Linked DNA regions of Homo sapiens. The gene in region 7 interacts genetically with the main gene of each other region. Each region holds a gene or a part of one and is shown on either strand. Other genes may lie near its edges.

What was found.
Region 1: changes in EZH2 (region 7) and ARF1 together harm fitness more than expected from each alone (negative genetic interaction), as found in Homo sapiens cells (one large-scale study listed by BioGRID).
Region 2: changes in EZH2 (region 7) and GBF1 together harm fitness more than expected from each alone (negative genetic interaction), as found in Homo sapiens cells (one study listed by BioGRID).
Region 3: changes in EZH2 (region 7) and RAB1A together harm fitness more than expected from each alone (negative genetic interaction), as found in Homo sapiens cells (one large-scale study listed by BioGRID).
Region 4: changes in EZH2 (region 7) and ARL5A together harm fitness more than expected from each alone (negative genetic interaction), as found in Homo sapiens cells (one large-scale study listed by BioGRID).
Region 5: changes in EZH2 (region 7) and VPS51 together harm fitness more than expected from each alone (negative genetic interaction), as found in Homo sapiens cells (one large-scale study listed by BioGRID).
Region 6: changes in EZH2 (region 7) and IGF1R together harm fitness less than expected from each alone (positive genetic interaction), as found in Homo sapiens cells (one large-scale study listed by BioGRID).

The regions. Positions count from the first base shown.
Region 1 is NC_000001.11:228,092,708-228,096,207, reverse strand, and holds part of ARF1 (ADP-ribosylation factor 1), read right to left. Parts: intron 1-3,500. UniProt on the Homo sapiens protein: Small GTPase involved in protein trafficking between different compartments. Modulates vesicle budding and uncoating within the Golgi complex. In its GTP-bound form, triggers the recruitment of coatomer proteins to the Golgi membrane.
Region 2 is NC_000010.11:102,371,032-102,374,531, reverse strand, and holds part of GBF1 (Golgi-specific brefeldin A-resistance guanine nucleotide exchange factor 1), read right to left. Parts: intron 1-3,500. UniProt on the Homo sapiens protein: Guanine-nucleotide exchange factor (GEF) for members of the Arf family of small GTPases involved in trafficking in the early secretory pathway; its GEF activity initiates the coating of nascent vesicles via the localized generation of activated ARFs through replacement of GDP with GTP.
Region 3 is NC_000002.12:65,089,231-65,092,106, forward strand, and holds part of RAB1A (ras-related protein Rab-1A), read right to left. Parts: intron 1,849-2,876; coding exon 1,753-1,848; intron 1-1,752. UniProt on the Homo sapiens protein: The small GTPases Rab are key regulators of intracellular membrane trafficking, from the formation of transport vesicles to their fusion with membranes.
Region 4 is NC_000002.12:151,801,360-151,804,421, forward strand, and holds part of ARL5A (ADP-ribosylation factor-like protein 5A), read right to left. Parts: intron 1,966-3,062; coding exon 1,917-1,965; 3' UTR 1-1,916. UniProt on the Homo sapiens protein: Lacks ADP-ribosylation enhancing activity.
Region 5 is NC_000011.10:65,106,214-65,109,287, forward strand, and holds part of VPS51 (vacuolar protein sorting-associated protein 51 homolog), read left to right. Parts: intron 1-1,367; coding exon 1,368-1,514; intron 1,515-1,589; coding exon 1,590-1,809; exon of another isoform or gene 1,810-1,811; intron 1,812-1,983; coding exon 1,984-2,701; intron 2,702-3,066; coding exon 3,067-3,074. UniProt on the Homo sapiens protein: Acts as a component of the GARP complex that is involved in retrograde transport from early and late endosomes to the trans-Golgi network (TGN).
Region 6 is NC_000015.10:98,711,039-98,714,538, reverse strand, and holds part of IGF1R (insulin-like growth factor 1 receptor isoform 1 precursor), read right to left. Parts: intron 1-3,500. UniProt on the Homo sapiens protein: Receptor tyrosine kinase which mediates actions of insulin-like growth factor 1 (IGF1). Binds IGF1 with high affinity and IGF2 and insulin (INS) with a lower affinity. The activated IGF1R is involved in cell growth and survival control.
Region 7 is NC_000007.14:148,874,292-148,877,791, forward strand, and holds part of EZH2 (histone-lysine N-methyltransferase EZH2), read right to left. Parts: intron 1-3,500. UniProt on the Homo sapiens protein: Polycomb group (PcG) protein. Catalytic subunit of the PRC2/EED-EZH2 complex, which methylates 'Lys-9' (H3K9me) and 'Lys-27' (H3K27me) of histone H3, leading to transcriptional repression of the affected target gene.

The DNA.
Region 1 (3,500 bases), on a different chromosome or scaffold from region 7:
TTCCACACACAGGTGGCTTTTGGCTGAATCACAGCCATGACTGTCCGCTGGTGACTCTCTCATCCAGTCACCCCAGCACGCTACGGCAAGGAAATGCCTCTTCTCCATTTCTCAACATCAGCAAGAGCCCACACATGCCTGTGTGTTTCAGTGGGTGTGAACTGGCCGCCCGTGTCTGATTTAACACTGCCATCATCCCAGATGAGCCACAGAACCCCTTCAAGCTGGATCAGTGTCCTTTGGACACTTTGCTCTTGGTTTTGAACATGTCACCTATTCTGAAATTTAAATGAGTTCTGAAATTTATAAGGACCTTCACTGTAGTGTTCCCTTTTTGGGGACGGCCAGGTTTTCTAAGCCCAGAGGAAGACCACCACCCATGGAGCACAGAAGAGACTGAATACCTGCCCTCTCAGTCCACTCCTGCAACCACTACCAATGAAGACACCAAAATGACACACACGCCTTGAAGGGCAGAGAGAAAAGGGAGGAAGACCTTGGATGTGATGATTGACCAGGCAGAGAAAACTGGACCGCCTGGGACCCAAGGGATGAAGCTGGGACTGCCTAGGGCAGCAATGTCCAATCTTGGCTACCCTGGGCCACAATGGAAGAAGAATTGTCTTGGACCACACACAAAATATACTAACACAACAGCTGGTGAACCAAACCAAAACAAAAACCCCCAAAATCTCAATGTTTTATTAGAAATTTGTGTTGGGTCGGGTTCAAAGCCATCCTGGGCCACATGCGGCCTAAGGGTTGGACAAGCTTGGTCTAGGGGAGCAGCTGCAGCAGGGCTTAGGCCTGCGCTGAGCCATGACAACACACTTGAGCCATGAAATTCCAGAATAATTCCTGAGAGTTCTATATGCCCCAGCAGATCCACACACAAGCAACTGGAGCTCCGCCCACCCCCACCCCCCACCAAGAGACAGGCCTGTCTGCCTTTGAAAGGCCACCAACATAAGAGACCCAAATATAAAAGGAATCTGCAAGGAGGCAACCAAGACAGGAGACTGAAGACAGAATACTATTTTAACAAAGGACAAGGAGAGAAACCTGATAGATACACAAATAGCTGAAAAGGAAAATTCAAAATGAAGGTGCTCAGAAGGCAGAACAAAAACAAACAGAATGAAAAAGGAAGATGAGGAGTAACTTAAGATATCAACCAACAGAAACCCTAAAAAGAAAGAACGTACGAAATTACGGGGTGAAATTTTTCCCTGTTCCAGAGTGGGGACCCAGGAATCTGGGCTTCGGCCTCAAAGGGCTGAAGCGCAAAGCCAAGGACCTAGATGAGACCCAATAAAGGTGCAAGGTGGACTCCAGAATGCACAGGGGCAAATGACACCTCTGATGCCCCAGAGAATGGAAGACTCTGAAACACTGCTTTCGAAACCCTTTAATTCTATACCCAGCCAAAGTATCCAACAAGTGTTAGGGGAGAATGAAAATAACTCCCAAACTGCAGGGCCTCAGATCTCTCACATGCTCCCTCCCTAAGAAGCTCCCCCAGGGAACCAGGGAGAGGATGCGAGCCCACAGCAACGTGGAGAGAGAGCAGCAGCCTAGCCAACCCCACATGGAGAGAGAGCAGCAGCCTAGCCAACCCCCTCAGACTGGAGCAGGAAGTGGACACCTGCAAGAATGGGGCACGCCACCTACGTATTCTTATTATGGGGTTGGGCAACTCTAGGCAATGCGGAAAAACTAATAATGACAGGTTCGCATGAAAAACCCAAGCATGAAATGGAACGAAAAGAGGGCCTTTTATGAGTTACTCCAGGAAAACATATGGTGGAGGATACTCAGGGAGTCCTGATGTTGTTATTACTAGGGGGTTGGAAAGCTGAGGCGAGGGTGTGTGGTGTCAAAGGCTTGTTAACTGTACAAGTTAACAAGTCTAGGAGGAATAAACCTAGGACACCAAGTCAGCAGGGACTCAGGAATAAGGGTCGCCTGCCAGTTGGGCAGAGGCAGCACCAGACTGCCACGACCACTGAAGCACAGCACTTGGGAGAATTGACAGTAACACCCAGCCACTCAGGGGAAGGGGTGTCACACCGTCACCAACCCCCTCGACCCCAGCACTGTCCGTGATCCACACATGCCTGCTGCCTCCTCATGCCCGGGGCAGTGCCGCCAACCATGCCCAGGAGATCATGCAGCCTGCAGGCAGTGGGGTTTGTGATGCCAGTAATCCCAGGCCCTCCCCATTGGTGGCTTTTTTTTTTTTTTTTTTTTTTGAGACAGAGTCTCACTCTGTCATCCAGGCTGGAGTGCAGTGGCTTGATCTCAGCTCACTGCAACCTCTCAGGTGCGATCTCGGCTCACTGCAACCTCTGCCTCCCAGGTTCGAGATTCTCTTGCCTCAGCTTCCCGAGTAGCTGGGACTACAGGCGCGTGCCACCACGCTGAGCTAATTTTTATTTTTATTTTTAGTAGAGACGGGGTTTCACCATGTTGGTCAGGGCTGGCCTCGAACCCCTGACCTCAGATGATCAGCCCACCTCGGCCTCCCAAAGTGCTGGGATTACAGGAGTGAGCCACCACGCCCGGATTTTTTTTTTTTTTTTTAACAGACCAAAGCGTTAAGAGTCCCCAAAGGAGGGAAGCCACCCTGCAATGGAATGGCAGAACCAGGATGGGTGAACCTGAAGTCTCAGGTGTCAAGACATCGGCACACAGACAGCTTGGTCTCTCCTACCGACAAGCACATCTGTGGCCCTGCTGCACATATGGGCAGAGGGTGGCTGGCACGTCCTGCCTCGGCATGTTCCAGCATCCCCACAGGACCCTATACCTGGCAGCCCCTACATCATTTACTGCTTCTGTGACAGATGGAGACCCAATAGAGTTTCCTAAGAGGGAGAAAGAGTCCACAGCAACCCCCACCCTCAATTCCAGGGCCTCTTGGTACGGGTCCTAACTTGTGTCATGCCCAGGCCAGGTGCTGTCACCCTTTCTTCCACCAGAGTCCCTGCACACAAGCCAAAACCCGCTTTTCAGGTTCATCGGAATTATCCTGTGGTAGGAGCAAACCTGACTTTCTCAGAGCCTTCCTGCTTGTACACAAGGGGACCCCTCACACTTTGAGAAGGGGCTGCCCAGCAGGAGGATGCCAGGAGCCACCAGTGGCTACTTCTCTTTCCTGACCACGCTGTGGGCTCCAACTCTGAGGAAAAAAAGTCTTTTAGGAAGAATGTTTCTTTCTTCAGTGAGGACCACAGACCAATGGTAAAGGTGGCCTTCAGGCATTACACCAAAGAACGGGACAGTCAACTCTGGCAGCTACATTCCCCGACACCTCACTGTGCCTGAACAGGGGCAGGGAGAAAATGTAGCTCTGTGAGTTCACATCCGTTTTGTGTCCATGAATGGATCCAACCAAACTGGTCCAGATGCACATGGGGTCCAGATGCCTCTGTGGCCTGTACCCAGACCACCAGCCAGTACTGTCCTCGGTCCCTTGCAGATCTCAGGGATACTTTGGC
Region 2 (3,500 bases), on a different chromosome or scaffold from region 7:
CTCACAGCAGCCTCAAACTCCTGGGCGCAAGTGATCCTCCTGTCTCAGCCTCCAGAGTAGCTGGAACTACAGGCATGCACCACCATGCCCAGCTCATGTTGCCCTTTTATAACCACACCCACCTCCTCCTTCCTGCCCCCATCCCTAATCCTTAGCAATCTGTCTTCAAATTCTTTTTTTTTTTGAGATGGAGTCTTACTCTGTTGCCCAGGCTAGAGTGCAGGCAGGATCTCAGCTCACTGCAACCTCTGCTTCCCATGTTCAAGTGATTCTCCTGCCTCAGCCTCCCAAGTAGATGGGATTACAGGTGCGAGCCACCACGCCTGGCTAATTTTTGTATTTTTAGTAGAGATGGGGTTTCACCATGTTGGCCAGGCTGGTCTCGAACTCCTGACCTCAAGTGATTCACCAGCCTCAGTTTCCCAAAGTGCTGGGATTACAGGTGTGAGCCACTGCGCCCAGCCTGTCTTCAAATTCTAAAGTTCTGTCATTTCAAAAATGTTATATAAGTGGAATTATATATTACATAACCTTTTTAGATTGGCTTTTCTTTCACTCAGCATAGTTCCCTGGAGATGTCTGTTGCTTTAAATTGCTGAATAGTATTCCATGGTGTGTATGTACCACAGTTTATTCACCTATTGAAAGTCATCTGGGCCGATTCCAGTTTTTGGCTATTACAACTAAGGCTTCTATAAACATTCATGTACAGGTTTTTATGAGAAAGTAAGCTTTCACTTTTCTGGGATAAATGTCCAAGGGTGCAATTGCTGGGTTGTATGGTAATTATATGTTTCATTTTATAAGAAACTGCCAGCAGAGTAGCTGTACCATTTTACATTCCCACCCAGCAATATATGAATGACCCAGTTTCTCCACGTCCTTTCAGCATTTGGTATTGTCACTACTTTTTATTTCAGCCATTCTGAAAAGTGGGTAGTGATGTCTCATTGTGTTTTTATTTTTTGGAGTCTTGCTCTGTCACCCAGGCAGGAGTGCAGTGGCACGATCTCAGCTCACTGCAACCTCCTGCGTTCAAGCGATCCTCCCACCTCAATCTCCTCAGTAGGTGAGACTACAGGTGTGTGTGACCACGCCCAGCTAATTTTTGTATTTATTGGTAGAGACATGGTTTCACCATGTTGGCCAGGCTGGGCTCAAACTCCTGACCTCAGGTGATCCACCCACCTCAGCCTCCCAAAGTGCTGGGCTTACAGGTGTGAGCCTCATTGTGGTTTTAGTTTGCAGTACTCTGATGGTTAATGATGCTATCTTCATTTCATGTGCCTATCTGCCATCTGTATGTGTTCTTTGGTGAAACATCTGTTCCTATGTTTTGTCCATTTTCTATTAATAATTGGATTGTTTTATCACTGTTGTGTTTTGAGAGTTTTTATATTACAGATACCTTTCTTCAAATATGTGATTTGCAAATATTTCCTCCTCGTCTACAGCTTGTCTTTTCATCCTCTTCACATAGGCTCTCATAGAACAAAACTTTTAAAAATATTAATGTAGCCCAACTTATCAATTTTTCCTTTTCTAGATTGTGCTTTTAATGTCAAGTCTAAAAATTATTACTTTTTTTGAAAGAGAGTCTCCCCCGGATCTGTTCCATCCAGACAGTGTTGAGGCAAGAGACAGATCCACAGGACTGCCAAACATGCTAAAAATTCTTTGCTTAGCTCTAGATCCTGAAGATTTTCTCCTGTTTCTAAAGTTTTTATAGCTTTACATTTAAATCTATGATCCATTGGAGTTAATTTTCCTGTAAGGTATGAGGTTTAGGTCAAGGTTCATTTGGTTTTTCCTCCTATGGATTTTAATCACTCCACCACTTATTGAAAAGGCTATTCCTCCTCCACTGAATTGTTCTTACATCTTGGTCAAAAAATCCACTGAACATATTTGTGTTGAGCTTATTTCTGGTCTCTCTATTCTTTTCCATTGATCTACGTGTCTGTCCCTCCATCGACACCACATAATCTTGACTACTATAGCTATACAGTAAGTCTTTTTTTTGAGACAGAGTTTCGCTGTCCAGGCTGGAGTGCAATGGTGTGATCTTGGCTTACTACAACCTCTGCCTCCCAGGTTCAAGTGATTCTCCTGCCTCAGCCTCCTGAGTAGCTGGGATTACAGGCATGCCCCACCATGCCTGGCTAATTCTGTATTTTTAGTAGAGACGAGGTTTCTCCATGTTGGTCAGGCTGGTCTCGAACTCCCAACCTCAGGTGATTGCCTGCCTTGGCCTCACAAAGTGTTGGGATTACAGACGTGAGCCACTGTGTCCAGCCGAGAGTAAGTCTTTTTTTTTTTTTGAGATGGAGTCTCGCTGTGTTGCCCAGGCTGGAGTGCAGTGGCGCAATCTTGGCTCACTGCAACCTCCGCCTCCCAGGTTCAAGCGATTCTCCTGCCTCAGCCTCCCGAGTAGCAATCAGGCGCTCACCATCACGCCCAGCTAATTTTTCTATTTTTAGTAGAGACGGGGTTTCACCACGTTAGTCAGGCTGGTCTTGATCTCCTGACCTCGTGATCCACCCGCCTCAGCCCCCCAAAGTGGACAGTAAGTCTTAATACCAGAGTGATTCTTTTTTTTTTTTTTTGAGACAGAATCTCACTCTGTCACCCAGCTGGAGTGCAGTGGCGCGATCTCAGCTCACTGCAACCTCCGCCTTGAGTTCAAGCGATTCTCCTGCCTCAGCCTCCCAAGTAGCTAGGATTACAGGTGTGTGCCACCACACCCTGCTAATTTTTGTGTTTTTAGTAGAGATGGGGTTTCACCATGTTGGCCAGGCTGGCCTTGAACTCCTGACCTCAAGTGATCTGCCCGCTGTGGCCTCCCGCAGTGCTGAGATTACAGGCATGAACCACAGCAACCGGCCCAGAGAGAGTGATTCTTTCCACTTTATTCTTTCTAGCTATTCTAGAGCTTGTGCCTTTCCATCTAAATTTTAGAATAAGCTTACCTATGTCTACAAGAACCTTTCTGGGATTTTTATAGGAGTTATGTTGAATTTACAGATCAATTTGGGGAGAAGTGACAAAGTTACTATGTTGAGCCTTCCAATCCATGAACATAGTATGCCTCTTCATTTATTTACATCTTCTTCAATTTATTTTGTAGTTTTGTAGTTTTCATCATACAAATCTTATACATGTTTTGTCAGCTATATATTAAGTATTTCACTTTATTTGGAACCCTTGTAAATGGTATTGTATTTTAAATTTCAGTTTCCATATTGTTCATTGTTAGCATGTAGAGATATAATTACTTTTTGTGTATTGATCTCACATCCTGTGACCTTGTTGAATCCACTTATTAGTTCTATGCTTGTTGTTTTTTGTAGTTAAGCAAAGAGATCTCAAGAGGGTCATAAGCATGACAGGAAACCAGGTATAGGGCTGAGACTATTATAAGGCAGTAGCAGGCCAGTCCTACAAAGCAGATTCATAGGAGGCTGAGGTGCCAAACACAAGCTCCATGCCTGAGGCCATTC
Region 3 (2,876 bases), on a different chromosome or scaffold from region 7:
GAGACAGGGTCTTGCTCTGTCACCTAGGCCGGAGTGCAGTGGCACAATCACAGCTCACTGCACCCTCGACCTCCCAAGCTCAAGCCATCCTCCCGCCTCCGCCTCCGGGATAGCTGGGACTACAGGCACATGCCACCACACCTGTCTTTTTTTTTTTGGATTTTTTGTATAGATGGAGTTTCACTATGTTGCCCAGGCTGGTCTCGAACTCCTGAGCTCAATCGGCCCACCTTGGCCTCAAAAAGTGCTGAGTTTACAGGTGTTAGCCATTGCAGCTGGCCGTAAACAGATATATTAAAATGACTATAAATATCTAAACAATGACAAACTAGAATTTACAGGCTTAACGATGAAAATACCTTATTTGAAAGGGAAGTATAGCTTAATATTAAACTGCAACGCAGGCAAACCCAACTGCTTTGGAATATGCAATTTAAATGTACTACAAAACCTGGTTTTGAAATTTGATTAATTTTTTTTTTTTTTTTTTGAGACAAAGTCTTGTTCTGTCATCCAGGCTGGAGTGCAATGGCGCGATCTCGGCTCACTGCAACCTCTGCCCGCTGGGTTCAAGCGATTCTCCTGTCTCAGCCTCCCAAGTGGCTAGGATTACAGGCACGGGCCCCCACGCCTGGCTAATTTTTGTATTTTTACTAGAGATGGGATTTTGCCATGTTGGCGAGGCTAGTCTCTAACTCCTGACCTCAGGTGATCCGCCCGCCTCGGCCTCCCAAAGTTCTGGGATTACAGGCGTGAGCCACTGCGCCTGGCCTGAAATTTGGTAAAATTTTGGTTTATGAATAAGATGACCTACTGTTACTACTAGAGATGTCAAAAGATGTTATTAAATATACTCATTTTCTTTTCCACAGTCATATTTAGAGGACGAAAGTTTTCATTTAAAAATATTTCACGGTAATAGTAGAGATTTTTTAAACTAGCATCATTTTTTTCTCCTGCAGATATCACCCACCCAGCACTTCTAATGGCACTGAATCTAAATGCTTACATGTAAGTTATCTCCTAATTAGCTATGATTTCTCATTAGAGGTGAGATTTAACATTTGCCAAAAGAAAAATAAATTCCAATTTTGAACGTTTATCTTTTGTCCTTTTCTTTGATAGAAAGGACACTGAAATCTAAGTTTCTGATTTAAAAAAATAGTAACAAAAAAAGTTATGGCCCCTGGATCACATGCTTCACACTGTCCCACATTGTTCCCTCCATCGCTCTGCCCTCTCTCACAGCTAATCTTCAGATACTCATTCTCATACTAAGATCCTCCTACAGCTTATCCTATTCAAATTCTTTATTTCTGAACCACATCCTCCATAGGCAGAGACCCCCGAATCCCACTTTTGGCAATTCTGATGGACAAGTTCTAATTACCAGGCCATATTCCTGTTAATACTTAACACCAAGAACACAGTATAAGCCAAGCAACTCACGATTCCCTACAAACTCTTGCCTATATGTTAGAGTCTTGGCTATTTGATCAAAGTTATTTAGTTGACAATAAATACAACCAGAATCCCTTGAAAGCAAACGTAAAACTAATTACTAATCTTTTATTTATTACAGGAAAACAAATGTCTTTTAAGTGATTCACATTTATATTTGAGAGTGGACAAAGTTTTCTGCCATAAAATTAATACTGATGGCTTATATATGAAGTAGTAAATGAATCTGACATTAATCAAATAATGGCTTCCTACTTGGTCACTGTAACACAATCTCCTCTTGGAACTTACCTGATCTGTCACATCATACACAACTATGATGCCATGGGCTCCTCTGTAATAACTGGAGGTGATTGTTCGAAATCTTTCCTGGCCTGCTGTGTCCCACTATTACAAAACAATCAAGAAATCCAAACAATTCCATTAAAATAAAGTTGGGGAAAAGTGTAGGAGGGAGGGGAAATAGTTTAGTTTTCATAACTGTGGAGATTATCAGGATGTGATATAGAAACATTAGTCCTCAACTCATACCACTAAATTGCACGGTAATAAGCACCTGAAAGTCCAGAAAAGAAGTAGTACCTACAATTGAGCTTACGATAATAATACTAAAATTACAAGCTGTTGAGAGCAGGAACTATGTCATACTTTTCACATTCCCTACCGCCTTTAACACTGTGTTTAGGAATGCCACTGGCCGAAAGCCCTTGAACACAGAACTCTTCCATGTAAGACAAACTCACTTGCTAGCACATTCTACCATGATTAAAAGCACTGGAGGGACCTAATTCAAATAACTACCAGTCAAGACAGAACTTTAATCATCCCAAGCAGGTGTCTTTTTTTTCCCCTCTCAAGCAGCGTCTCATTCTGTCATCCAGGCTGAGTACAGTGGCATGATCATGGCTCGCTGCAGCCTCAACCTCCCACCTCAAGCAATCCTTCCACCTGAGCCTCCTGAGTAGCTGGGACTACAGGCACATGCCACCACACCCGGCTAATTTTTTCTTTTTTGTAGAGACAGAGTCTCGCTACATTGCCCAGGCTGGTCTCAAATTCCTGGACTCAAGCAATTATCCTAACTCATTCTCCCAAAGTGCTGGCATTACTGGCATGAGCCACCATGCCTGGCTAGGTGTTGTCTTCATCCTAGAGAAAAAAATGTAAGGAAGATGACTCCAAATACTTTCATAAAACGTATTTTAAGAACAATTTACTGCACTTCAACCATTTAGGCTCAAACTCCCAAAACAAATGCTAACATTATTGCATTATAGTTCTGGGTTTTAAAAAACTGTTGGGACTGGGTACGGTGGCTCACGCCTGTAATCCCAGCACTTTGTGGGGCCGAGACGGGCGGATTACGAGCTCAGGAGTTCGAGACCAGCCTGACCAACATGGTGAAACCCTGTCTC
Region 4 (3,062 bases), on a different chromosome or scaffold from region 7:
TCAAATTAAAACATAAAAAGGACAAAAGGTGTGGATTTTCTGGGCTACATCACATAATATTTGTCTGGCGAAACCATAATACAGATTTGGGTAAAGGAGATTTTTAATAGATAACAAGTAATTCTTTATAGGGATTTGAGAAAGTACGAGAACATATGGGAAAAGCTTAGTAATTTAAGATTTACTTTTGTAAAACCATGTGGACAAATATTAAATGTTATGCTTGCATTTTGAACATTATAAATATAAAACATAAAACATCCAATGTTAAATACTGATATCCCATGCCTGACCTGGATTTAGATATTGAGTATTTCCCATTTTAAAGAAAGAAACTTTCAAAGTTTTGTCAATACTTAAACTATATACTATTATTCCTCACCAAAATCTTCATGAAATTTAAAAGGCTGATATTGAAGGTAGTTTTTTTTTCTCAAATATGCTAAAACATGTGAGTTTGGATTAACCTTCAGATTTTCAAGGCATGAAAGATACATAAATAGAGTACCCAAGAATATGTTTTAACACATTTAGGATAAGTTTGTTTACAGTTGTGACAGGAATACCTTTGACTTTCAGACACTGAAAAAATATACCCTAAGCAAACATAAAAGGTGTTTTGGGTCAAGTTACTTCTTAGTACAAATAATACGTTGTATCAATCAATTTTTAAGCCAAATTCTTAAAATCATTCAAAAAACACTTGCATTTTATAATTGTCAATGCATTTATGTAATAGAAGATACAACAAAATTTAGAAATAAAAAATCTCACACTATATTCCAAGTACCAAAATAAGAAGAAATTTGCAAATTAAGAAATTATCAATGTTGCTCAGAAACATGCCTTACTTTTACTCTGAAATTCACTTTAACTGCTTGACATATAATTTAATACTTAAAAATAATATAGCTAAGTTGTTTAATAGTATTTATAGAATGCTACTTTTCTGGGTAGACATGTTTCACAAAACAGTTTTCAATTAATGCTGAGCATTCATTTGATAATTGTAATCATAATTTGATTCACTGATTAATGGATTAATAATTTATTCAGTAATTTAGATGCCATAAGAACCACTGAAAGGAATAATCTGATAGTTGCTCATTGTACAATCCTGCCTATTAGTAATACTAAGCCAAGAATCTGCTAGCTTTCCCACTCTGTTGAATTACATGTTTCCATGTGTGTGATTTTGGTCAACAACAAAAAATCGATACACAATGTCATGCTTTTTCCTTTTCCTTTTTTTTTTTTTTAAACAAGCAGCTCAGCGATTTGGGAGGTTGGTTAGTACAATACAGAGAACACAGAGAGAAAGTATAAAATGGCACTGAACACTAATGCCAATACTTATCTCATTGTGGTTATAACGAAGGATATTATTATTTGTGTTATTTTTGTCTGGAACATAAATCAATGCCATTAACTTGAACTTGAGGTATATACACAATACACACACAACCTTAAGCAAAATACTTTTCATAAGTAACATTACATTTTAAAATATTGGAAACATTCGAATATCTGTGCTGATTTGTATTCTGACTTAATGGAACAAGAAGAAAATAACATTCAACTAGGGAGGGTTAAACTGATAATAAAGCTCTTAAAATTCAAAATGTCTTCCTCTCCCTTTGTACTTACCATAGGCTACACAATGTCCTGAGAGGATTCATTATGAGAAAAATGTCAATCACAGCTTCAATAACTTACTTTGGAAAAAACTAATGAGAAAGCAAACTGGAAGGTGAGACTTCATCTTTGTTTTCAAATAAGTGGTCTTAATTTTTCTTCTTATAGAAAAAGTTTAAATCAGTTTATTATAAATATATCTAAACCATTAATTTTTGCAGCTTTCAGGTAAAGTCCAGCACTTCATTTATACAAAATCTATGAGAAGAGGTCAGTAGAGATCATCTAATCTTAAGTCGTGACATCATCCATTCAAGTCCTTGGCACAATCTATAAAGAAAACAAAATCATTTGATTAAATTCTGAACTAAGAAGCTATGAGCAGCAAACTATGAACAGCAAACTAAAAGAGAGCATTTTTCATTTAGCTAAATAACAAAGATTTAAAAATCAATAATATTCAGTGCTTGGGCTGCTGCAGTGAAGCCATATTCTCATACACAATACATCTGTGCTTTTTTTGTCTTTCCTCTTTTTTAGACAGGGTCTCACTCTGTCACCCAGGCTGGAGTGCAATGGCACAATCAATGGCAGCCGTGACCTCCTGGGCTCAAGCGATCTCCCCACCTCAGCTTCCCCAGCAGCAGGGACTACAGGCGTGTGCCACCACACCCAGCTAATACATCTGTGCTCTTTTGGTTCAGTTATATCTCTAGCACCCAGAACGCTGTCTGACACTTTAAAAAAGCTTTATAATTATGCAATGAGTGCCCACAGAAAGCAACATATGTCAAAAATATATCTGGCAATACGTATCAAAAATATTTAAAATATCAATACTCTGCATCCTTTTTTCTACTTCTAGAAATGTATCCCAAAAAAGAAAATCAGACATAAACATAGACTTACATACAAAACTGTTCATTAAAGTACTTTTAATAGGAAAATAATTTTTGTCTAAAAATACAGAAAAAAATAAATTACAAGACATTTGTATGATGAAATATTTAAAATTTTCCTTTAAAAAATGATTTCATAATTCTCATCACCAGGAAATGGAGGAAATAAAACCATTTTATAATAGGATAAAATGCTCATGATATAAATGAAAAATGGCAGGATATTCAACAAAATATATATTGTAGTTATTAAAACAAAGTATACACATGTTACATAAATATTATAAAATGTAAGTATGTAAAACTTTTGAAGGCAATAAAATTTCTTATCAGTAACATCAGTTATCACTGAACAACTGGTAATTGAACATAACCCAAAATATAGAAAACGATGTTCACTGTGGGAAAAGAAACTAAAAGTTGAGCAAGAGAGAAATGGTTGTACACATTAAGTTGCAATAAAATGAAGAACTGTTATAAGTATTAACTATTATCTATGACAAGCTTTTGCAGACATAAAAAACTATG
Region 5 (3,074 bases), on a different chromosome or scaffold from region 7:
CATGACTTGGTAATGGATTGATTACTAGGTATATTAATCCAGGTTCATACTGCTGTAAAGAACTGCCCGAGACTAGGTAACTTATAAAGGAAAGAGGTTTAATTGACTCACAGTTCACAGCATGGCTGGGGAGGCCTCAGGAAACTTACAATCATGGCAGAAGGTGAAAGAGAAGCAAGGCATCTTCTTCACAAGGCAGCAGGAAGGAGAAGTGTTAAGCGAAGCAGGGAGAGCCCCTTATAAAACCATCAGACCTCGTCGGGTGCGGTGGCTCATGCCTGTAATCCCAGCACTTTGGGAGGCCAAGGTGGGCGGATCATGAGGTCAGGAGATCAAGACCATCCTGGCTAACATGGTGAAACTCCATCTCTACTAAAAATACAAAAAATTAGCTGGGTGTGGTGGCAGGCACCTGTAGTCCCAGCTACTTGGGAGGCTGAGGCAGGAGAATGGTGTGAACCTGGGAATTGGAGTTTGCAGTGAGCAGAGGTCGTGCCACTGCACTCCAGTCTGGGCGACAGAGCGAGACTCAGTCTCAAAAAAAAAAAAAAAGAATAGGTGGAATTGAATTGAGGCCGTCAGTGAACAGTCAGGAACATTGGAAGGCTCATCCATGTGGATGTGCACAAGGAGGTGACAGGAGGAGGAGAAGAGGCAGTGATGGGGAACTGAGAGGAGTGTCAGAGGACAGTAGAGACAGCAAAGAGGAGGGTTGTGGCTTGATGGCATGGTCTTCCTAGAAGCCGGGGTTTTGAAGAGAGGAGATCTAGGCATGATTTAGAAGCATGAAGGGACCAGGCTCCCAGGCACCTGGTGTGTGAAAGGAAAAACAGCCTCCCTAGGCAGGATTCTATCAGGACCAAAGGGAAAGGGCCCTTCAGAGAAGACAGCCCATGTTCCGGAAAGCATGTGAAAGGCTTTGGGAGGTCTGGAAAGGAGATGAGGGTCAACAAGAATGTATTGCCTCATCCAGGCAGTGCGCTGGACACGCAGATGCGCTTGGGAGCCAGCGGTCCCTGCCTTGGCTGCTTGTGGTCTGATGGAGCAGTTGAGGCACAGTGGTGGCAGCTGGCTAAGCACCTGCGGCCTGCTTCGGATCTGGACTAATTCTGAGGGCCGGCTCTCCTGGGCACCAGGGTTAGGGGGTTACGGGGAGTATGTGAGTAACGCCTGCTTTGGGAACATAAACCCCCTCCCCCGCCCCCATGTGCGCTGTGACCCACGCCCTCGCAGTCCTTTCTCTGGAATCATCCATGCGCCCCTGGAGCAAGCTGGGGCGTCTGTGAAGGGGTGGGTGAGAAGGAGCTGAGGTTGCGCCCGCCCTGCAGTCACCTGCTCTCCCCTTTTCCCCGCCCCTGCCCTCCTAGACACCATCCGGAAGATGAAGAACGATTTCCGGAAGATGGAGGATGAGATGGACCGGCTGGCCACCAACATGGCAGTGATCACCGACTTCAGCGCTCGCATCAGCGCCACGCTGCAGGACCGCCACGAGCGCATCACCAAGCTGGCAGGTGGGCGCTGCCGGGCAGGGCCTGCAGTGGGCCTTTCCTGGGGCTCTGGGGCTAACGTCACCCTCCGTCCCCCAGGGGTCCACGCGCTGCTGCGGAAGCTGCAGTTCCTCTTTGAGCTGCCCTCGCGCCTCACCAAGTGCGTGGAACTGGGCGCCTATGGGCAGGCGGTGCGCTACCAGGGCCGCGCGCAGGCCGTGCTGCAGCAGTACCAACACCTGCCCTCGTTCCGCGCCATCCAGGACGACTGCCAGGTCATCACGGCCCGCCTGGCCCAGCAGCTGCGGCAGCGCTTTAGGTGTGGCCCCTCTGCCCTGACCCCAGCGCTCCCGCCAGCCCCGAGCCCCATCTGTGCCCGGCTCCTGGGCCCTCCTGGAGCTGTCCCCCTGCCCTGTGTGTGCTTTGCTTTCCTGCTCCTGCCCCATCCACCGGCAGCCCCGGCCCTGCCCTTCACTACCTCTCCCTCGTGCAGGGAGGGCGGCTCAGGCGCCCCGGAGCAGGCAGAGTGCGTGGAGCTGCTGCTGGCCCTGGGCGAGCCTGCGGAGGAGCTGTGCGAGGAGTTCCTGGCGCACGCCCGCGGCCGGCTGGAGAAGGAGCTGAGAAACCTGGAGGCCGAGCTGGGGCCCTCACCTCCGGCTCCCGACGTGTTAGAGTTCACCGACCATGGAGGCAGTGGCTTCGTGGGCGGCCTCTGCCAGGTGGCGGCGGCCTACCAGGAGCTGTTTGCGGCCCAGGGCCCAGCAGGTGCCGAGAAGCTGGCGGCCTTCGCCCGGCAGCTGGGCAGCCGCTATTTTGCGCTGGTGGAGCGGCGGCTGGCGCAGGAGCAGGGTGGTGGTGACAACTCACTGCTGGTGCGGGCGCTGGACCGCTTCCACCGGCGCTTGCGGGCTCCCGGGGCCCTGCTGGCCGCTGCCGGGCTCGCAGACGCTGCCACGGAGATCGTGGAACGAGTGGCCCGCGAGCGCCTGGGCCACCACCTGCAGGGTCTCCGGGCGGCCTTCCTGGGCTGCCTGACAGACGTCCGCCAGGCGCTGGCAGCACCTCGCGTGGCTGGGAAGGAGGGCCCTGGCCTGGCCGAGTTGCTGGCCAATGTGGCCAGCTCCATCCTGAGCCACATTAAGGCCTCTCTGGCAGCAGTGCACCTTTTCACCGCCAAAGAGGTGTCCTTCTCCAACAAGCCCTACTTCCGGGTACGCCTCCTCTTGGGTGTTCCTTGTTCAACCTGCTGGTTGACCCTCCAAAACCTTTTATGCCAGTGCTTGGGAAACTGGGGAAACCAGGCACTCTGGGTGTGGTTTCAGGTTCTTATGCACGGTCTGGGGGGTGGGGAAGGCTCAGGGCATCTGCAGCTGGGCTGAGAAGCAGGGCATGGTGGGGTCCCCAGTGTTGGCTTTCTCTGCCCCCACTCAGGGAAGCTGCTCCGGGGTACTTAGAATGTAGGATGATGCTGTCCCTTGCAGAGGGGGCTGGGGCACTTAGAGCCCCAGCAGAGGGTCATTAACAGCCTTACCTGGAAGAGGGGACCTGCTGTGGACCTGGGCACCTTCTCTTGCAGGGTGAGTT
Region 6 (3,500 bases), on a different chromosome or scaffold from region 7:
AAAGTGCTGGGACTATAGGCACGTGCCTCCACAACCAGCTAATTATTTAAATTTTTTTATATGAACAAGGTCTCACCATGTTGCCCAGGCCAGTCTTGAGCTCCTGGACTCAAGCGATCCTCCTGCCTCAGCCTCCCCAAATGCTAGGATTACAGGTGTTAGCCACTGCGCCCAGCCTTCAATTTACACATTCTTAAACAGGTCCTCCACTTTGATCTAGCAGGTCAGCCACACCAACCTATAGAGGAAAACGAGGGAAGGAGAGCGCCTCTACTCCGCAAGACAACACTGCCCTTGTGAGCAGTGGCTGACAAACAAGGATATAAGAACGTGGCGGTGGAAAAATGTAGACTTTTTTTTTTTTACTACAACCTGCCTTCATTTTAAGTCAGTGAGATGCCATCAGTGAGATGGCAGTAAAATGTTTTCCTTTTGTCAATAAAAACAGCCATTTACTGCCTTCTCGAAGGCTCCAATCTGCTATTTTCCTGGTTTCTCATTTTGAGGGCAATAGGAAATGCAACAAACTCCAGGACTGCTGCTCCCAGTCAATGCCCTTTTAATTGAAATAAGGCTGCCCCACCAGCTAAGCCAGCTTCCAACACAGCCCGGCCCTGCCTTCCTGGATTTCCTGGCAAAGCCCAGGCCTTCTCACACGCACTCAGGGTGATCTGAGCAGACCACAGGCTGTTCATCCCAATGGGTTAAAAAGTACTTGGAGACTTAGTTGCAGTAAGGTCTTAGGTTTTGTTGGGGTTTTTTTTGTGGGAAAGTGAAGGCATCTGCACCTGAAATGAAATACCAGAAAGCCTCCACAGCAAGCAAACAACAGGCACTTAGGTAAATTCAGCAGGAAGTAAGAAAACCACAGGTACTCAGGAGGATTCACCTCCGTCCCTCCCAGGGCAGAACTGGCCTTCAGCAAAACTGCCTTACAAAGTCATGAATGGCTTCACGTGCCAAGCTTCAACCTTTCAGATGATTTCCATACTTCTCCATCATCTTTGGCCTGGAATCATCCCCACAATGGCAGGAAAGAAAAGAGCTACCCGCCATAGTGGTCCTCTCTGCCAACTAAGAGTTGCAGATGATTCTGGTCAGTACTCCTCAGTAGCAATGACAGCAACAATGACACAGTAAACATCTGCATTTCATAATCCTGGTACAACTGGCTCACCGAAGACTGCCAGGATACGCTACTCTCTGCTCAAGGGGAAAATGTATCTTCCGAACAATAAATCCTTCACTAAGCAGATGCAGTGCTTGCCCTTGGGGTGACAGCATACAGTGGAGGATACACCCAGAATTTACAGTGGGGCAAAAAGTGTCCCATCAGGTGCTGGGAGACAGGCCTCCCGAAATCTGCAGAGCCTTTACATCCTTGAGAGGAAAAGGCAAGGCTAGAGTTCGGCCAGGTGAGCCGTGCCGGCTGGTCAGCACGGGAGAGCACCACTGGGGCCAAGGACACAGCAGGCAGGCGGGAGGGAGTGGCACATGGAGTGTGGCATGTTGTCACGGGGTAGCTGTTGACCACTCAGGAGCTTCACACTGTACCACATGCCTATCCTATAGGGACTTGCTACAGGATTTCAGGTAGGGGAGCTCATCAGTCCAAAGTGCACACTAGATGGCCGGGCGCAGTGGCTCATGCCTGTAATCCCAGCACATTGGGAGGCCAAGACCGGTGGATCGCCTGAGGTCGGGAGTTCGAGACCAGCCTGGTTAACATGGTGAAACCCCGTCTCTACTAAAAATACAAAAATTAGCTGGGTGTGGTGGTGCGGGCCTGTAATCCCAGCTACTCAGGAGGCTGAGGCAGTAGAATCACTTGAACCTGGGAGCCCGGAGGTTGCAATGAGCCAAGATCGCACCACTGCACTCCAGCCTGGGTGACAGAGTAAGACTCTTTCTCCAAAAAAAAAAAAAGTGCATACTGAAAAGCTCCCCAGTGCTCGGTGGAGCCACAGGACACAATAGCAGGAGAGAGGCTATGTCACTGCTGTAAGGGGGAGGAGCAGAGGAACACAGCTGAAGCAGCATTTCCATTCCATTCGGGAGGGAAAGGGCCTGGTATCCAACTGGAGAAGGAAGTGTCCAAAGGACACCCACATTCCTGACATAAGAACCAGGGGAACAAAAGTGTGGCCCACTTAAGAGGGAATAGAAAAGAAAAAAAATAGGCAAAAGTGAGGAAACAGGGAAGACCATCAGAGGCTGTAGTGAAATGCTCGTGGTGGTCTGATATGAATGACAAGTCCTGGGTTCAAAAGGGTTCTGGGATGGATATGAATGACAGGTCCTGGACTCAAAAGGGTTCTGGGCTGGAGATACTTGGAAGTTTAGGTGGAGACAGGAGGCAATGCAGTTACCAGTGGATGAGATGAGAACAAGGAAAGTGAAAAGAGAGCCCAGGACAGAACTCCAGCCATGCTATGATCTGAATGTTTATGTCCCCTCAAAATTCTTATGTTGAAACCTAATCCCCAGTATGATGGCTCTGGGAGGTGATTAGGCCATGAGGGTGGAGCCCTCACAAATGGGATTAGTGCCCTTATAAAAAAGACGCCAGAAAAAAAATCCCTCGCCCCTTCCAACATGTGAAGACAGTGAAAAGGTGCTTCTGTGAACCAGAGTGTGGGCCCTCCCCAGACAGTTAATCTGGTAAGCACCTTGAACTTGGACTTCCAGCCTCCAGAACTGTGAGCAGTATTTCTGTTGTGTGTAAGCCACTCAGGGTATGGGATTTTGTTACAGCAGCCTGAATGGACTATGTCAGGAGACCACCGTTAAAAGCCAGACTGAGGGAAGGGAGACAGAGAAGCGGCACCTGTGGGGGTAGGAAGAGACTCATAAGAGGGTGGCGTTGGAAGACAAGGAAGAAGAATCAACCACACCACATGTCAGGGGGTGCCACACAACTATGTTCTTACTGAAAGGAAACCACTGTACACAGTTCTTTAAGGGTCAATCGCTCTTTAGGAATGACTCAAAAATGTATAAAATCCACTCCTAAATCCAAAAAGAACCGAGAAATACAGAAGTGTGCAGAGAACCCACAGAGGGATCACGTCCATAGAGGGAGTAGAGTCTACTACGCTGCCAGACACTGCAGAGTCACGGCACAGAAGGAGTTTAAAGGACAGTGCCAAGTGAAAACCGCGCAACAGCACGACAAAATCGAGTAGGCTCAACGATTTCACACACACCCTTGACGTGTTTCTCCAGATGTTCTCCGTAGTTCTACAGCCAGCCAACAGAAGATTACCTGAATGGGATTCTTCTGTGCTTAATGTTTTCGAATGGCCATCTTAATGCTTATGTTGAACTCAAGGTAGCCATTCTGCCTGGACTCAATGCCCTTCATGGAGCTCCCCAAATGATTCCTAAGGGTTCTGGCTGGAGAGGTACATGCGGGGCTATGAGCGCTGCAGTGACGACTCAGCCAAAAAGATGATGAGGGGAAGAACTCCTGGTGTTAAAAGAAATGCTCTAAAGCAGCT
Region 7 (3,500 bases):
GTGGGAGGATTGTTTCAGCCCAGGAGGTGGAGGTTGCAGTAAGCCAAGATTGTGCCACTGAAATCCAGGCTGGGTGACAGAGCAAAACCCCGTCTCAAATAAAAAAGCAAAGAAAAAAAAAACACCTATCAGAGATAATACTAATTCAGAGAGTTTGGGCTGTTCTACAGACTACCTGGAATGCTACCTTCAGGAATTTCTTAACTTGAATCCACAGCCATGAGAAGACTGAGGTGGACAATGCCACGATCACCTACAGTGGTGGTAAACAACACCCAATGGAGGTCCAACAGCTTGCTTTATATATTTTTTTCTTTGTTAAACAGGAAAAGGAAAAGTTATGTATTACTTGAATATTGAAGAAAAACTAAAAATTTATTGTGGGGGCAATTCAGGTGTTGAGCAAAAGAACTGCTACTTTACAAAAATAAAATAGTGTATAGAAACCAAGTATATATAATCTGAAAAGCCATCCATTTCTATAATAAAAAAATTTACGGGAGGCTTAGGCAGGAGAACAGCGTGAACCCAGGAGGCAGAGCTTGCAGTGAGCCGAGATCGCGCCACCGCACTCCAGCCTGGGGGACAGAGCAAGACTCCGTCTCAAAAAAAAAAAAAAAAAATTTTACTTGATTGTCAAAGTAGGGAAACTAAGTTTGGCAATCATCATTTCTACATACCCCATTCTAAGATCAAGGTCACTTTTTACTTTTAATATTCTCATTTATCCTTTGAAGAAAAAATTTAAGGCTTAACTCACTAATAAATGAAAAGGTTTGAATTATGCAAAATGAAGAGAATTACTAAATACAATAATTTTCAAAACTAGTTTAATTAAAAAAAATTATCATCCATACACCTAACAGCATATGAATAATATCCTTTTAGTTTACAAGTTTCTGCAAATGCATAACATTTTGTTACACTAATTAAATGACTCGTGAATTAAGGACAATTTGTTTCACATAATTTATCTGATTATGCTTCCCATATTAAAGTTTTAACTTGATCTTTATAGTATTAAAAATACACAAAATCAAACAAAAATGAACAATAAAATATTTGCAACACAATCTGACAGATAATGTGACTATGTACCCAGAACATATAAAGACCTCTTGCCACTCAACCAGACAAACAATCCAATTTTTTAAAGGGACAAAAGGCTTGAACCAAAAAAAGTACACAAATGGCCAATAAGCATATGAAAAGATGTTCCAACATCATTGATCATCTGAGAAACACAAACCCACAATGAGATACTTAATACTCATTTGATGGCCAAAATTTAAAAGACTGGCAACACGAAGTGTCAATGAAAATGTGAAGAAACTGTAACTCCTGCACAGTTACAACTGTAACTTTCAATTTAAAATGGTACAACTATTTTGGAAAAGAGTTTAACGGTTTCTTACAAAGTAAAATCAATATTTACCACTAAAACATGTCCAGGAAAGACATACAAATGGTGATAGCAGCTTTATCAACAGCTGACAACAGTCCTATGTGTCCATCCATGGGTAAATGAATTTAAAAACTGTAGCACATGCCTACAATGGAATATTAATTCAGAGAGTTTACTACAAGTCAGGTGCCGCGGCTCATGCCTGTAATCCCAACACTTTGGGAGGCCAAGGCAGAATCATTTGAGCCCAGGAGTTGGAAACCATCCTGGGCGACACAGGAAAACCCCATCTCTACAAAAAAATATTAATAATAAATGTTAGCTGGGCATGGTGGTACATGCCTGTGGTCCTAGCTACTTGGGAGGCTGAGGTGAGAGGTTCGATTGAGCCCAGGAGGTCAAGGTTGCAGTGAGCTGAGATCTCGCCTAAAACTACAAAAATTAGCTGGGTGTGGTGGCAGACGCCTGTAATCCCAGCTACTCGGGAGACTGAGGCAGGAGAATTGCTTGAACCCAGGAGGCGGAGGTTGCAGTGAGCCGAGATCATGCCATTGCACTCCAGCCTGGGTGACAGAGCAAGACTCCATCTTGGAGGGAAAAAAAAAAAAGTTGAGAGAATGACTGTAAAAGAGGATGAAAGGACTCTGAGATGATGGCAACCATTATAGATCTTGATCCAGGCAGCGGTGCAGGTGCATACATTTGTCAAAACTCCTCAAATCATACCCTTCAAATGTGTGCTTTTTATTGTATGTAAATTATACTTCAATACAGTTGTTGTTTTAACTAAAAATTAATATAACTTGACAACACCTATTAAAACTAGAAATGTTCATAATCTTGAAAGAGCCAACTCTATAGAAAATTGTCACACAAATGTTCAAAGATACATAAGGATGTTCACTTCTTTTCAGGAGAGAAAACAATGTCAATCACAACAGATTGGTTTGCTGCGTAATGCACATTCATAAACTGGAATACTATGCACCCCCCTTACACCAAAGAGGTACAGCTGGATGGCTTAGAGCAAGGGGCAGCAAACTTTCTCTGTAAAGGGCCACATGGTAAGTATTTTAGGCTTGGCAGGCGGTATCTAGTCTCCCTTATATGTTCTTCAGGGAAGTGGGGTGGTATTGTTTTACAACTCTTTTAAAAGTGTTAACGTTTCCAGCTCACAGGCCTTACCAAAAATGATCCCTGGCTGGGAGATCAGGACTTTGAAGCTAACGTACCCAAATTAAAATCCTTCCTCTACCACTAACTAGTTGTTACTTAATCTCTCCATCTCTCGATATTATAGTATCTATATAAAATAATGACTTAGAAGAGTACCAAGCATATAGTGAGCCCTAAAGGAATATCAATTATTTTTTAATAAAACAGATCTTTGTATTGACCTTAAAAAAAAGCCATGTTAGAACCAAATAACTTGGTCCCATTTTTATAAAATGTATGTAAAAATACATATTCATATATGAATATATTTGAAAATTTGGGGAAGAATATACACCAAACCGTTAAAGGTAGCGAATGAGATAACAGGGATCAATACGCTTTCATTTTATAAATGTCTACATTGTTTCAGTAGTTTAAAGCGAACACATTTAATCAACAGACATTTCTAAATTGAAATAGATAAAACGTGTGGTACCATTTTTGTAACTTACCAGTCCTAAGCACGTAATTTTAACTTGAGAAGTGTTTGGTTCCATTAATGAGAAAGTACATCAACTCTAAAATAATATTGGCACAATAACTGAAAATCATTTATCAAACACTTTTTGCCAGGTACAGTTCTAAGGATTTCACATGTATCAATTCCTTTAATCCTCACAACCACCTTATCAGATGTTATCATTATCCTCACCAATTTACAGATAGGGATGCTAAGACATCAAGAGGATAACACCCCAGACACAAATTGGTAGCTCAGGGACTGGAACCCAAGAAACTGTCTCCAAAGACCACATCCTTAGAACTCTACTCTCCTCCCCTCTCAAATGCATACTATTACCACTCTGGCTGAGAAAGAAATCCTCAAAGTTAACCTTTAGTCTGTCTAGGGTTTCACACTGTACCTTCCATCAAACTACAA